Linked DNA regions of Homo sapiens. The protein of the gene in region 1 purifies or fractionates together with the protein of each later gene. This does not show direct contact. Each region holds a gene or a part of one and is shown on either strand. Other genes may lie near its edges.

Region 1 (3,500 bases):
CCCTTGAAAGTTTTGAAAAGTGTACTTCTAGGAGCTTTCAGTGACTTAAAAGTCTGTGGACTAGAGGGAGAGGAAAGGATGTACCAAACATAGAGACTGAGAAAAAGAAGTTGATTGTTTAAGATGATTGAGGCTATCACATGAGTTTCTAAGCAGACCTAAAAGGTAGTGGTCCCCGTTGAATCGGTGACCCTCTGATGAGAGTGCCCTACGAAGGTGTGGCAGGGAATGATTAAAGCTTCCTTCTTATTATTCCTGTGCAACTCACAGTTGCGAGTAGGGACAGATCCACATAGGCAGCCATGCTGGTTCTACTGCTCAGAGGGCACTACCTAATTTTGGGAGAGAGCATAGTGAAAGAGTTGCCACCTTCTTACCAATACCAAGCTCAATCTGCATCAGGGATATTAAATTCAGGAATGAACTTGCTTGGCAGAGTTGGCAGAAAGAAACAGAAATAGCCTTTTTTGGTGATCTCTGAGAACAGAAGAGTTCCCCATCCGTCTTTCTGCAAAACTTTAGTGGTGACTGCTGGGAGGCAGGGAGCTGGACTATATGATATTGGGCAGTTAAAAGTAACCTGGGGCCGGGCGCGGCAGCTCACACCTGTAATCCCAGCACTTTGGGAGGCCGAGGTGGGCAGATCACGAGGTCAGGAAATCGAGACCATCCTGGCTAACATGGTGAAACCCTGCCTCTACTAAAAATACAAAAAATTAGCCGGGCGTGGTGGCGGGCATCTGTAGTCCCAACTACTTGTGAGCCTGAGGCAGGAGAATGGCATGAACCCGGGAAGCGGAGCTTGCAGTGAGCCAAGATTGCACCACTGCACTCCAGCCTGGGCGACAGAGCGAGACTCCGTCTCAAAAAGAAAAAAAAAGTAACCTTAACATTTCAGACGTACAAGAACAGACACTGGAAGGGTGGTGGTGGAAAACAGCCTCCCAGAGGGACTAAAGAATCTCTAGGCCTCCTTATTCCACCTACCCAAAGTATATGCATCCAGGGTCACCGGGGTTGAAGGTGATGTCACTAATATTTTGAAATTACCTGTATTCCAACTCTACAAAATCTTTCCTCTTGCTCATGCTCTTGAGTGTGTCTTAGACTCACTCTATTAGCATTTTTGTGAAGAGGCCTCTGAGTCTGAGTCCTTTGTTAGCTATAGTCAGATTCTGGAGCCAGGTTGATCTGATGAAATTTCCCCAGTTCTGCACTGATTCCAGATTTGGTGAGGCTCTGAAGGATTGTTCTTGGAGAGCAGTGGCTTTGGTCAGCAGTGTTCTTTCATTGAACTTCCTTCCAACAGTCCCTCCAGAGGAGGTGTTCTTTGTTTTGTGACTCCTGTTCCTCCCTGTTCTTTGGAAGGCCTAGATCTATGAGTCCTAGTCTGATTTCTTTTTGCCTTTTCAATTGTCCCTCCAGTTGTTAGAATGTGTGTATGACAGTGGGGGGAGTGGTATTGGGGCAGAAAAGGCTGTCATAAGTATTTCTGGAAGATTCTCAAACAATTGGAACTCTTTGCTTCCCTTATAAAATAATATAAGTTTTATGTTACACACACACTGGTTAGTAACCTTTTAGGTGATGAGGATTCAACTAGCATTTCTTTTTTTTTTTTTTGAGACAGAGTCTCGCTGGTCTTGAACTGCTGACCTCAAAGTGATCCACCTGCCTCAGCCACCCAGTGCACTGGGATTACAGGCATGAGTCACTGTGCCCGGCCTCAACTAGCATATATTGAGTACTACTATGTATCAAAGACTGTGCTAGATTCTTTCATACACGTGATGGTATTTGTTCCACATAGCAACAATGAGAAGGAAGTGTTTTTTCCCAATTTGCAGTTGAGGATAAATGGCTTGCATAAGTTGCACATTTCTGAAAGGCTGAATGAGGATTTTCAACCCCAGCCTATTTGCCTTCAAGTCCAGAGCTCTTTCCATTATATGTTAGCAGCCACGGCACTGGAGAAAGAGGGTGTGATGTCATGATGTCAGACAACCAGAGAAACGGCACAGCTTCAGCAGGGTTGATGATGGTTGTTTTAGAGCTGCCTTCTTCTAAGTGAAGCCTGGCATGGTATTTACTGGCCTTTATTTTCTGGGAACTTCGAGTTTAAAAGGGAAGGTAAAAAAATACCTGTAACCAGAAAAATATATCAAGACTTTAATTTTATTTATTTATTTATTTATTTATTTATTTGAGACAGAGTTTCGCTCTGTTGCCCAGGCTGGAGTGCAGCGGTGCGATCTCGGCTCACCACAACCTCTGCCTCCCGGGTTCAAGCGATTCTCCTGCCTCAGCCTCCCAAGTAGCTGGGATTACAGGCATGCGCCACCACGCCCAGCTAATTTTGTATTTTTAGTAGAGACGAGGTTTCTCCATGTTGGTCAGGCTGGTCTCGAACTCCTGACCTCAGGTAATCCGCCTGCCTCAGCCTCCCAAAGTGCTGGGATTACAGGCGTGAGCCACCGCGCCCGGCCTTTTTTTTTTTTTTTGAGACAGAGTCTCACTCTGTCTCCAGGCTGGAGTGCAATGGCGTAATCTCGGCTCACTGCAACCTCCACCTCCCAGGTTCAAGCAATTCTCCGGCCTCAGCCTCCTGAGTAGCTGGGATTACAGGCGCCTGCCACCACGCCTGGCTAATTTTTGTATTTTTAGTAGAGACGGGGTTTCACCATGTTGGCCAGGATGGTCTCGATCTCTTGACCTCGTGATCTGCCCACCTCGGCCTCCCAAAGTGCTGGGATTACAGGCGTGAGCCACTGCGCCTAGCCAAGACTTTAATATTAAATAAAGATGGCTGGGCAAGGTGGTTCACACCTGTAATCCTAGTGCTTTGGGAGGCTGAGGCAGGAGAATTGCTTGAGGCCAGGCGTTCAAAGCTAGCCTGGGCAACACAGCAAGACGCCATCTGCACAAAAAAATTTTTTTTTAATTAGCTGAGCATGATGGCACACACCTAAAGTCCTAGCTACTCGGGAGGCTGAGGCAGGAGGATGCCTTGAGCCTAGGAGTTCAAGGTTACAGTGAGCTATGATCATGCCACTGCACTCCAGCCTGGGCAACAGAGCAAGACTTGTCTCTAAAAAATAAAAATAAAGGTGAGATGCACAGGACCTGTGTGTAGAATGTTATATGAGTAAGGAAATATAGTCTAAAGTGGAAAATAAAAAGGTTATAGCAGGCATTTAAAGGGAGACAGGAAGAGCAAGTGGATAGAAAAGTATTTGAAGAGTTAGGGAACAAGGGAGTAACACCTGACTTGCTTCTCAGTCTACCCGAAGAATCTGTAAATCACCAGGCATGGTGGCTCATGCCTGTAATTCCAACACTTTACGAGGCTGAGGAGGGAGGATTGCTTGAGCTCAGTTCAAGACCAGGCTGGGCAACATGGTGAGACCTTGTCTCTACAGAAAAATTTAAAAAATTAACCAGGCATGGAGGCACATGCGTGTAGTCCTGGATACTTGGGAAGCTGAGGTAGGAGGATTGCT
Region 2 (3,500 bases), on another chromosome or scaffold:
ACAGGAGTAGAACTAGGTCTTTTGGCCCTTAGACCTTAGATGCCTCTTCTTAGATGTGGTGGCTCACAATATCCCTATTGTGATAATATCTTACTGACTTTCATACAATTCTTTTTATTTGAGAAACATCTTTTGTCATAACCTCCCTTAATGATCACAATGGGAAAAACTTTGTGTTGCTATTTGGGGCTGAGCTTTCTTGTCATCACAAAGTAGAAATGAGACAAAATTCTTCACTCTGAATTCCAAGAGCTCTTGATGAAATTCGAAGGTTGGGGGCAAGGGCTGGATGACTTGGGATTTGGTGAGGATGGGGAAGTGGAAGGGATCTCCTGTGGTATTACTCCTTGTCTGTTCTTCTAGACGGCTTAGGAAGAAGCAATGTTGGGTGTGATCTGAGTGCCTGGACTTGGGCCGGCTTCCTGGGATGGAGGAGAGCTCTTGATTTCTTAAAGCTAAGTTACTGTTTGGCAACAGATAATTTACAGGGTAAAGAAAGGTTGATTTTCATGTTATGTAACCCTGTAGCCATTGCTCAGTTTTAGCAGTCTTGGTTCATCTGTAAACTCACCACTCACTACCCCCAGATGATTTTTGAAGTGGGTTCCTGACATTATATCATTTCTTCCATAAATGCTTCAGTATATATTTCCAAAAGATACCGATTCTTTTAAAGACATTAATGATTTTTTTAAAAACGCTAGGGAACAGTTCAGATTAACTGGATAACAGCAATAAAGGTCATAAGTTTTTGTACTTTCTACCTTGAGATTTCAAAATATTGAGCACATGAGAGACTCTTAGTCCAGTCACATTACTGTCCTTGATGATAACAACTAGATTATCTTAATTTTTTTTTTTTTTTGAGATGGAGTCTCGCCTGCTCTGTCGCCCAGGCTGGAGTGCAATGGTGTGATCTCGGCTCACTGCAACCTCTGCCTCCCGGGTTCAAGCGATTCTCCTGCTTCAGCCTCCCGAGTAGCTGGGATTACCGGTGCCCGTCACCACACCTGGCTATTTTTTGTATTTTTAGTAGAGACGGTTTTGCCATGTTGGCCAGGCTGGTCTTGAACTCTTGACCTCAGGTGATCCACCCGCCTCGGCCTCCCAAAGTGCTGGGATTACAGGCATGAGCCACTGTGCCCGGCCAAGTATCTTAATTTTTATCAAATTTTCAGAGGTAGCATATTGAGTATCTTCTATGTAATCTGTTTATGAAGGTAGCATTTTAAATTATTTAAATGGATTATCTGAATTTTTAATAGAAGCAGCTCCTGTTTATAATACAGATGGCTTTTGTGTCCCTGTTTCTTTAGCAATGTCATGGTGTGTTTGGATCTAATTACGTCATCTGGTGATAGATCAGGTGTAGTGTAATATAACACAGTGTTGTGTTAGCAGAAATCAGCACATGAAAGGAGCAAGTGGAGCTTTCTGGTTATATTTTTTTGAAACAGGAATTTATAGTCAGATGTGTCCAGGAATTAGGTATGAAGTTGGAATAGGTGATTTTTAAGGCTTCAACCATCTCTGGAGATTGACATGACCCCTTCATACTGAGAGGACTGATGCTTTTGTATTTACTGCCACCTATCATGAAGCAGAGATTGTAAAATAAATTCTAAGAGTGTTGTGAGAAAGGATTACTTTAATTTTGTTTTGTTTTTAAAGATTATAACTGTAATTTACATGTTATTTTTACAGTCACTTAAGCAGTTGCGTTTTAATAGCCACTGATTCTTTTCAGAGAATGTCCTTCAGTAACCTTGGTAGGCATTGTCTGTCTTCAGTACTTGCAGAAATAGGCTGCCGAAGGAAGTGTCGATGCTCAGATCTCCCTACGTTTTTTTATTCCTGCACCGCTAATGGTGGCAGTAGGAAGTTCCTAGGGACATTTGACTGCACCTTTTTGTTCGTTTGTTTTGAGACAGGATCTCACTCTGTCACCCAGTCTGAAGTGCAGTGGCAAGATCTCAGCTCACTGCAACCTCCACCTCCTGGGCTCAAGCAGTCCTCTCATCTTAGCCTCCTGAGTAGCTGGGACTATAGGCAGGCATGACCATGCTCCGCTAATTTAAAAAAATTGGCTGGGTGCAGTGGCTCACGCCTGTAATCCCAGCATTTTGGGAGGCTGAGGCGGGCAGATCATGAGGTCAGGAGACGGTGAAACCCCGTCTCTACTAAAAATACAAACATTTTTAAAAATTATTTTTGTAGAGATGAAGTATAGTATAGTGATACTGCCCAGGCATATTATTGAACTCCCAGGCTCAAGCGACCGTCCTCGGGCCTCAGCCTCTCAAAGTTCTGGGATTGCAGGCATGAGCCGTAGCGCCCAGCCTGGCATCGCCTTTTATTTGCCCTGTATCATTTCCAGTCTCTTAGCCTTGAATTTGAGTGAAAGTGTGTGTGAATGAGAGTGAGCATGTGTGTGTGTGAGCAGTTACATATGTGAGCTGGTGTGTGTGTGTGTAATATGTGTGTGCGGTGAGATGTGTGGGAGCATGTGTCTGCAGGATCAGGGATGTGTGTATGTGGGAGTGGGATATTTGTGTGTAAGTGGCATATTATGTATGTGTGTGAGCAGGTGAGTGTATGTATTCTGGGTCTACATGCTGACTGAATTGCTGAAAGGCAAATGAAGCTTGGGTTGTATAAAACAGAAAATGACCAATAATCCCACTATCCTGAGAAAAATAACATTCCCATTATTTTACTACATTTCTTTTCAGACTTTTTTTTTTTTTTTGAAATAGAGTCTTGCTCTCTTGCCCATGCTGGAGTGCAGTGGCACAATCTCAGTTCACTGCAACCTCCACCACGTGGGTTCAAGCGATTGTCTTGCCTGAGTCTCCTGAGTAGCTTGGACTACAGGCGTGCAACGCCTGGCTAATTTTTATATTTTTAGTAGAGACGGGGTTTCGCCGTGTTGACTAGGCTGGTCTCGAACACCAGACCTCAAGTGATCCACCTGCCTCAGCCTCCCAAAGTGTTGGGATTACAGATGTGAGCCACCGCACCTGGCCCAGACCTTTTTTAACACAGACATAGACACACAGGTGACTGTCTATAAAAGTACACAATTGAGATCATATTGGGGTAGAAGCTAAATTTTTTTTTTTTTTTGAGATGGAGTCTCGCTCTGTCACCCAGGCTGGAGTGCAGTGGCGTGATCTTGGCTCGCTGCAAGCTCCGCCTCCCGGGTTTATGCCATTCTCCTGCCTCAGCCTCCTGAGTAGCTGGGACTACAGGCGCCCGCCACCCCTCCCGGCTAATTTTTTTGTATTTTTATTAGAGATGAGGTTTCACCGTGTTAGCCAGTATGGTCTTGATCTCCTGACCGCATGATCCGCCCACCTCGGCCTCCCAAAGTGCTGGGATGATAGGCATGAGCTATGGCGCCCAGTGAAGCTAAATTATTTTTATAGATGTTCATTGTTTTAAAAGAAACTGGCCTGGCGCGGTAACTCACACCTGTCATCCCAACACTTTGGGAGGCC
Region 3 (3,500 bases), on another chromosome or scaffold:
TTTGGATATCTTATTGCAGATGCTACTTTCTCAACTCATTTATAGATAGGAATAGAAAAGTTAATATTTAGATATATAGAGTTTTTTATTTCAGTGGAATTTTTTGCAAAGCTTAGGAAAACACGGATATCTTTGTAGTGAAGTTTTATGTTAATTTTGTTATTGATTTGATGATTTGCTTTTGAGATTTGCTTTAAGAATTTTGTGTATTTCAGGCAACCTTTCAGGGCTTTAGGGAACCTAAGCTAGTAAAGTAGTTTTGTAAATTGAGGTTCCTCATTTCCTTATGACCACCAAGATGCACCTTTTCCTATTTTGGACTCTAATTCCAGCAGCTGTGTTTAAACCTCCTGGAGATTTACAGAAATACGTCTTGCCATTCTGTGTTCATTCGCCAGATTCATTGCTAGTTGGGATACAAGCAATAAGCCGTAAAAGAGGCAGAAGACAAAGGCTTTTTTTTGTTTGTTTTTTTTTCTTTTCAAATTCCTATTTTGCAAAAATGCAGCATTTTTCAGTTTATTCCAAAGGGTGGTTTTATGAAGACTTTGGAAAAAGAAAAACTGATACAAATGTTATTTGTCTCTGGACTATATCTTTTACTTTGTTGACAGGTAGTCTCCCTATCTGATTTTTACTCTAATTGGCCAATATGCAGCAGGATCACTATATGAAGAGCCCAGTAGTAGGGTTCAAAGTCTTTGATTTTTACTAGCTGGGGGCATTAACTTACATAGGTCACTTAACGTTATCTGTTATGGGTGACTACACTGGGGCCCAGAAAGGTTATGTGACTTGACTAGCTTTTTAAGAGCCAGGTTTTGAACTTGAGTATTCTCATTCAGACTCTTTATTAGCAGAAGTAAAAAGAAGACCTAAGTAGGGCCTAGTTGGAAAGTGAAAGGAGACTGAATGAGGAGATGACCAGAGAAGAAAGGAATTACAGATGAAGTTGGGAGTTTGAGCAAGGTACTCAGTAGGGTCAAGAAGAGCCAAACAGGCAAAATTCTGCAGAGAGACAAATGGATCAAAGAGTGAGAATGTGTGAGTGAAAAATAAATGTAGACATGATGTTAGTTGGATGTTTCTTACATACTACATAAATCAACAAAATCTTATTGTCATCACTGATAATGACTCTTTACATTATTACAAAATACAAAACTGTAAAAATTTTAAAATAATTTTCAAAGTTTTATCATAAATGAAGTATACAACTTTAGAACTCATTAATTTTAAAATGGTTCCAAACACCAAAGTCTGAAATTTTATTCAGAATGACTCAACTTCTAGGAGTTACCTTCACAAATGAAGTTTTTTTTTTTGTTGTTGTTGTTTTGATACAGAGTCTTACTCTGTTGCCCAGGCTGGAGTGCAGTGGCACCGTATCGGCTCACTGCAACCTCCATCTTCTGGGTTCAAGCAATTCTCCTGCCTCAGCCTCCAGAGTAGCTGAGATTACAGGCGCCCACCACCACGCCAGCTAATTTTTTTATATTTTTAGTAGAGACGGGGTTTTACCATGTTGGCCAGGCTGGTCTCGAACTCCTGACCTCAGGTGATCTGCCCGCCTCAGCCTCCCAAAGTGCTGGGATTACAGGCGTGAGCGCCCAGTCCCCAAATGAAGTTTTAAGAAACAAATTGACAACTATATATGGTATATAGAAGATGCTAAGTAAATGTGTCTTGCAATTGCTGTTATTCATCTCCTTGATAAAACTAAAATATATCTTAGACTAGAAATTTGTAGCAGAAGTGGTTTTAAAGTGTTTGAAATGGTTTATGTACAAAAGATCACCGTTGTTCACCTTATACTTTGACCTCTTGTTAAGTCACGTTGATGAACAGCCTTAATTTAATATATCTATTTTCTACTGTTCTAATATATACATATTTGGTTTTGAGGTTATATAATAAAAAGCAAATGAAGATTTTCTTCTCTTTCTAAATATGTAAAAATTGATAAAATAACTTCTTAGAAGTCAAGAACTCTAAATTAAAGTTTGAACCTTTTAGATCTAGAAAAACTGATTTAAGATATTTGGAGACCTTTTATTAAATGGCTTTGTTTTTTGTGTTTTTCAATTTTCAGTTCAGGGGCTTCTACAAATAATTTCATCATTAAGAGTGAATACAGATTACTTATAATAATATAAACCGTGTGTCCTAACTTGTGCCAAGTATTTGTCAGAAGGTTGTTCCTTCAACATGTCAACATTAGCAAACTTGACCTATATAAGACTTCAGCACACACTAGCAAGATGTACTGAAACTGAGAAGATAGGAAGTTAGGAATTAAATCCCATGGAAAGTCCATCTACTTATTGACTCAGCCACATAACAACTATTGATAATGGTTTCTTTGTGTTTTTTTGAGACAGAGTTTCACTCTGTTGCCCAGGCTGGAGTGCAGTGGCGCTATCTTTGCTCGCTGCAACCTCCACCTCTTGGGTTCAAGCTATTCTCATCCCTCAGCCTCCCAAGTAGCTGAGAGTACAGGTGTGCACCACTACACCTTGCTGATTTTTATATTTTCAGTTGAAACGGGGTTTCGCCCTGTTGGCCAGGCTGGTTTCAAACTCCTGGCTTCAAGAGATCCACCCACCTCGGCCTTCCAAAGTGCTGGGATTACAGGTGTGAGCCACCACACCTGGCTGATGAATGGTTTCATTTTCTGTTTAGGAGAAAAGAAAAAATATTTACTGTATATCCTTGATAATGACTATATGTATACAAGTTATACTTTATCTCTTCAAGTTTTTTGCCTTTGATATAGGCAGGTGAACTGAAATATAGGTGAAACTAGTTGAACATGAAATCTTAAAATTGCAAACATTGTAGCAGTATTCCTTTCTGACCATACTTAATGAGATAACTATATAAACTGTGGTAGCATTAATAGCTGCCATCCTGCAGAGGGCACTGTAATTAAAGTCAGTCTTGATTGTTATATAAATATTTTACATAACTCCTTTAACCAAATAAGAAATACAAATATACTACTAATGTTTTTATTTGCATCAGAAAGAATCATCAAAACTGTATTCTAACAAAAGTCATTTTGTATCTGCTGAAGATTTTATTTATTCAAACACATACATTATTGAAACCAAAATATCTCAGTAAAATCCCTAAGAAGACAAATGCCATTCAACAGTTGTGAAAACTTGCAAGTGTGGCACCAAAACCTTAATTTTATATCTCTTAATATGTAACAGGCAGAATTTTATGAGGGTTTCACTTGCTAATTGAGTACATCCTTCATGGATTCTTGGCCCAGTATCCATGTAGGGAATTTAGGCTATTTATTAACACCCTCAAATTGTACATAAACTTAAAAAAATTTTGTGTATATGCATATGTGTGTTTTGGGGGGAAAGATCTGTGATTTTGAACAGATTATCAAGGAAGTCCCTGGCTTTAAAACTGGCAGGTAGAGAGGAGTGGGGCAGGAAGAGACTAAGAACTTTTGGCCTGTTTAGTGAGTAAAACATTATACC
Region 4 (2,855 bases), on another chromosome or scaffold:
TTGGCTTGTACTAATTGAATGGAAGTGGTTAATTTGTTCAGAGTTTATTGCCGTTTGATGCCACCCCAGTCTATAGTTCTGTGTGACTTTCCATATTGAAAGAGTAGGGTTAGTAGCCAGGTTGTCAGTCTTTTACAAATGTCTACATAAATGTCTACATAAATCTGAAAGTGGTTTATATTCAAGGTTAGTTTTTCAGTAGCGTCTCCTCCTTATTCATTCACTTTTACTGTGAAGACTGAAATCCAAAAGCCAGGTTCCCCAAAAAAGTATTTTTAAAAAATTTTAGGGGACCAAAATAAATAGAGGAAGACCAATATAAAAAAATATGTTCAACTATTCCATTTTAAATTTAAAGCAGAAAAAAAAATTGTGCCCCTCAGACCTAAAGGCAGCTTTAAATGTATATAGTTTGGTGAAACATTTGGGAAATATTAATTTGGAGGTTTAGAAGCATACGAAAAACAAATTCAAAGCACTTGAAAGTAAAGACAATATCATGAGGTCGAAAAAACTTCAAAAGGATATTAGGTAAGAGAAAATGTGAATGAAAGCAGTGAATTTCTGCCTCTCCTCGTATTTAGGGTACTTAAAATTACTAAAAAATACTGTCTTTTTACCATACAGCTAGATGGCCTGTATTATTCTTAATGTGGCCAAAGGAGTGAAGACTGATTAGGGTTTTAGAATTTGGAACTGTAGTCACATAAAGGCATCTTTTGCATTTCTTAAACCAGTAATCTACATTTTCTCCTGGAAATGGAGAAATATGAAATGTGCTGTGCATAGCTTTTGGAATAGAAAACAAAGTTTTAAAAGAATGGATATGTTTTCTTGCACAACTTGTAAAATTTTAATTAAAAAATTACCTCATTTTTCAATCCATAAGGTGCTTTGCTCAAGTTTGTGGGATGTTTGTACCATCCCATAAAAACCCCCTTCACCCAAACTGTATTTGAAATATGCAAAATTCATAACTAAGGGATAGCATTCCTTGGAGACTTTGTTTTGTTTTACTCTTGTTTACCAGCTGGGCCAACATGGTAGATATATGAGATTCACATATGGTTTCATTAAAGCACATAGGAAAGTGCTCAGTCAATATTTAATTAGTTTAATTAGATAAGGGAAAGGAGAAATCCTAAATTTGATGGATTCTTTTATACTGTGAATATATTTCCATCAGTGTTGGTAAGATATCAAATGACTATCAGTTGATCCCAGTCATCAGTGACTTATTTGCATATTTAAGCCCTATTCACAAGAGACCATAATCATTTTAATCTTATATTTTCCCTCAGGAAATTTAGGGACTCTGAAGCCCCTATTTTATTCTCTTGGAGTAAACTGTTGAGTGTAGTTACAAAAACTTTTATTTATGACTTAAAAAAAGTTTAGCTGCTATTTCAGTGAAAGTGTAAAATAAAACGGTCATGATTTTTTTCAATTACAGAATAGTTACAAATTTTACCATGTTCATCTATTCCACAGAGCATGTTAAAAACAACAACAACAAAAACCTAACAGCAATTACAACCTTGGTGTTGCGTTTATTCTAATCAGAGTGAATGATTATAATCACACTTTGCTATTTTAACATAAATTGGTGCTTTAGAGCATTAAAGAGGAAGCAGCAGGCCCTGTACTCAGTATTTATTATTTCTTGCCTCAGAATGCAAAACAACTTTAAAGTGTCTATATTCATATATATGTGCATTTCTTAAGATTTAAATACAAACTGTTGTTACTCCTTAAGCTTCAGGCTTTCTGCGAAAGCTCTAAGAATATCTTCATTACTATGCTTGGTCAACTGGAAGATGGTATTAATAAGGTCAGAATTAGGAATTGGATTGCTCTGTGGGTCCTCCGGTATTGTGCAGAGGAAAGAAAAATGTCTTTCACACCACAAACTGTGTGTCTGAACCCCAGCCAAACAAATGTGTTCCATTGGTCCAATATATAAGCATTAACAACAACAACAAAAAATTTAAAACAAGTAAATTAATGCATTCACATGATCACTTCTTGAAAATGGTTCAAAGCATGTTTTCCTGATGGTGGGATTGTTTAAATGACATGTTTTAAAGTTTTTAATACTTTATTAGTTATGAAGTGCTTCTTTTATATGTTAAGTTTAGGTTGCCAGTACTCATAATTTTTATTTCTGCAATTATGTTATAATGAGTTGTTTGCATGCCTACTTAACCCAAGTAAAACGATGCTGTTTGCTCTGGAATGTTCATCTTTTAGACAGGTTTTGGCTCATTTCCAATCATGGTGCAATATAGTGTAACATTCATTTGTTTTCATTCAACAGTTTTATTTTTGTCATAATAAATAATTACTTTTCCAATACGAAGTGAATCCAGTGTTTTCTTTTAAAGGTAAATCTGCTTTAAGTTATTTGCTTGCAAATAATAGAAACCCACCTATGCCAACAAAGAGAGGATAATTGGGGTGAGGTGGTGGAGGCTCACAGAACCCACGGAACAACTGGATTTGTAGAACAGACTGAGACTAGAGACTGGACCATTTAGGAGCAAGCAGGAAGTTACCTTTTTTCCTGCTCATCTGTTTCTGTCTTTCACCTGACTGGATTTCTCTGTTTCCTGATCCACATAACAGATAATGTCCCAAGTCCAGTAGCCTCCTAAATTTGTACAAGGGAGAAGTCAGATTATTGTTAGACTTTCAATTACAATTCCATATTCCCCAGGGAAATTGTTCATTAGCCTGCATTGGGTCATTTCCTCTCTCTGATCTAAACAACTGGCCAAGTGGAAGGTGCATTTACCAGAGAAGGGGAATCCCTGGCCTGGGAAGGTGATCCGGATTGGTGTGTACTCCATTGTGGG

Evidence for each region. The genes of interacting proteins can lie anywhere in the genome.
Region 2: the proteins of PI4KB (region 1) and RAB11FIP3 purify together in Homo sapiens (pull-down; one study listed by IntAct). This does not show direct contact.
Region 3: the proteins of PI4KB (region 1) and ARL5A purify together in Homo sapiens (affinity purification with western blotting, with the first as the bait; one study listed by BioGRID). This does not show direct contact.
Region 4: the proteins of PI4KB (region 1) and ARL5B purify together in Homo sapiens (affinity purification with western blotting, with the first as the bait; one study listed by BioGRID). This does not show direct contact.

The regions. Positions count from the first base shown.
Region 1 is NC_000001.11:151,317,417-151,320,916, reverse strand, and holds part of PI4KB (phosphatidylinositol 4-kinase beta), read left to right. Parts: intron 1-3,500. UniProt on the Homo sapiens protein: Phosphorylates phosphatidylinositol (PI) in the first committed step in the production of the second messenger inositol-1,4,5,-trisphosphate (PIP). May regulate Golgi disintegration/reorganization during mitosis, possibly via its phosphorylation.
Region 2 is NC_000016.10:428,649-432,148, forward strand, and holds part of RAB11FIP3 (rab11 family-interacting protein 3), read left to right. Parts: intron 1-3,500. UniProt on the Homo sapiens protein: Downstream effector molecule for Rab11 GTPase which is involved in endocytic trafficking, cytokinesis and intracellular ciliogenesis by participating in membrane delivery. Recruited by Rab11 to endosomes where it links Rab11 to dynein motor complex.
Region 3 is NC_000002.12:151,807,922-151,811,421, reverse strand, and holds part of ARL5A (ADP-ribosylation factor-like protein 5A), read left to right. Parts: intron 1-3,500. UniProt on the Homo sapiens protein: Lacks ADP-ribosylation enhancing activity.
Region 4 is NC_000010.11:18,679,285-18,682,139, forward strand, and holds the end of ARL5B (ADP-ribosylation factor-like protein 5B), read left to right. Parts: 3' UTR 1-2,355; downstream 2,356-2,855.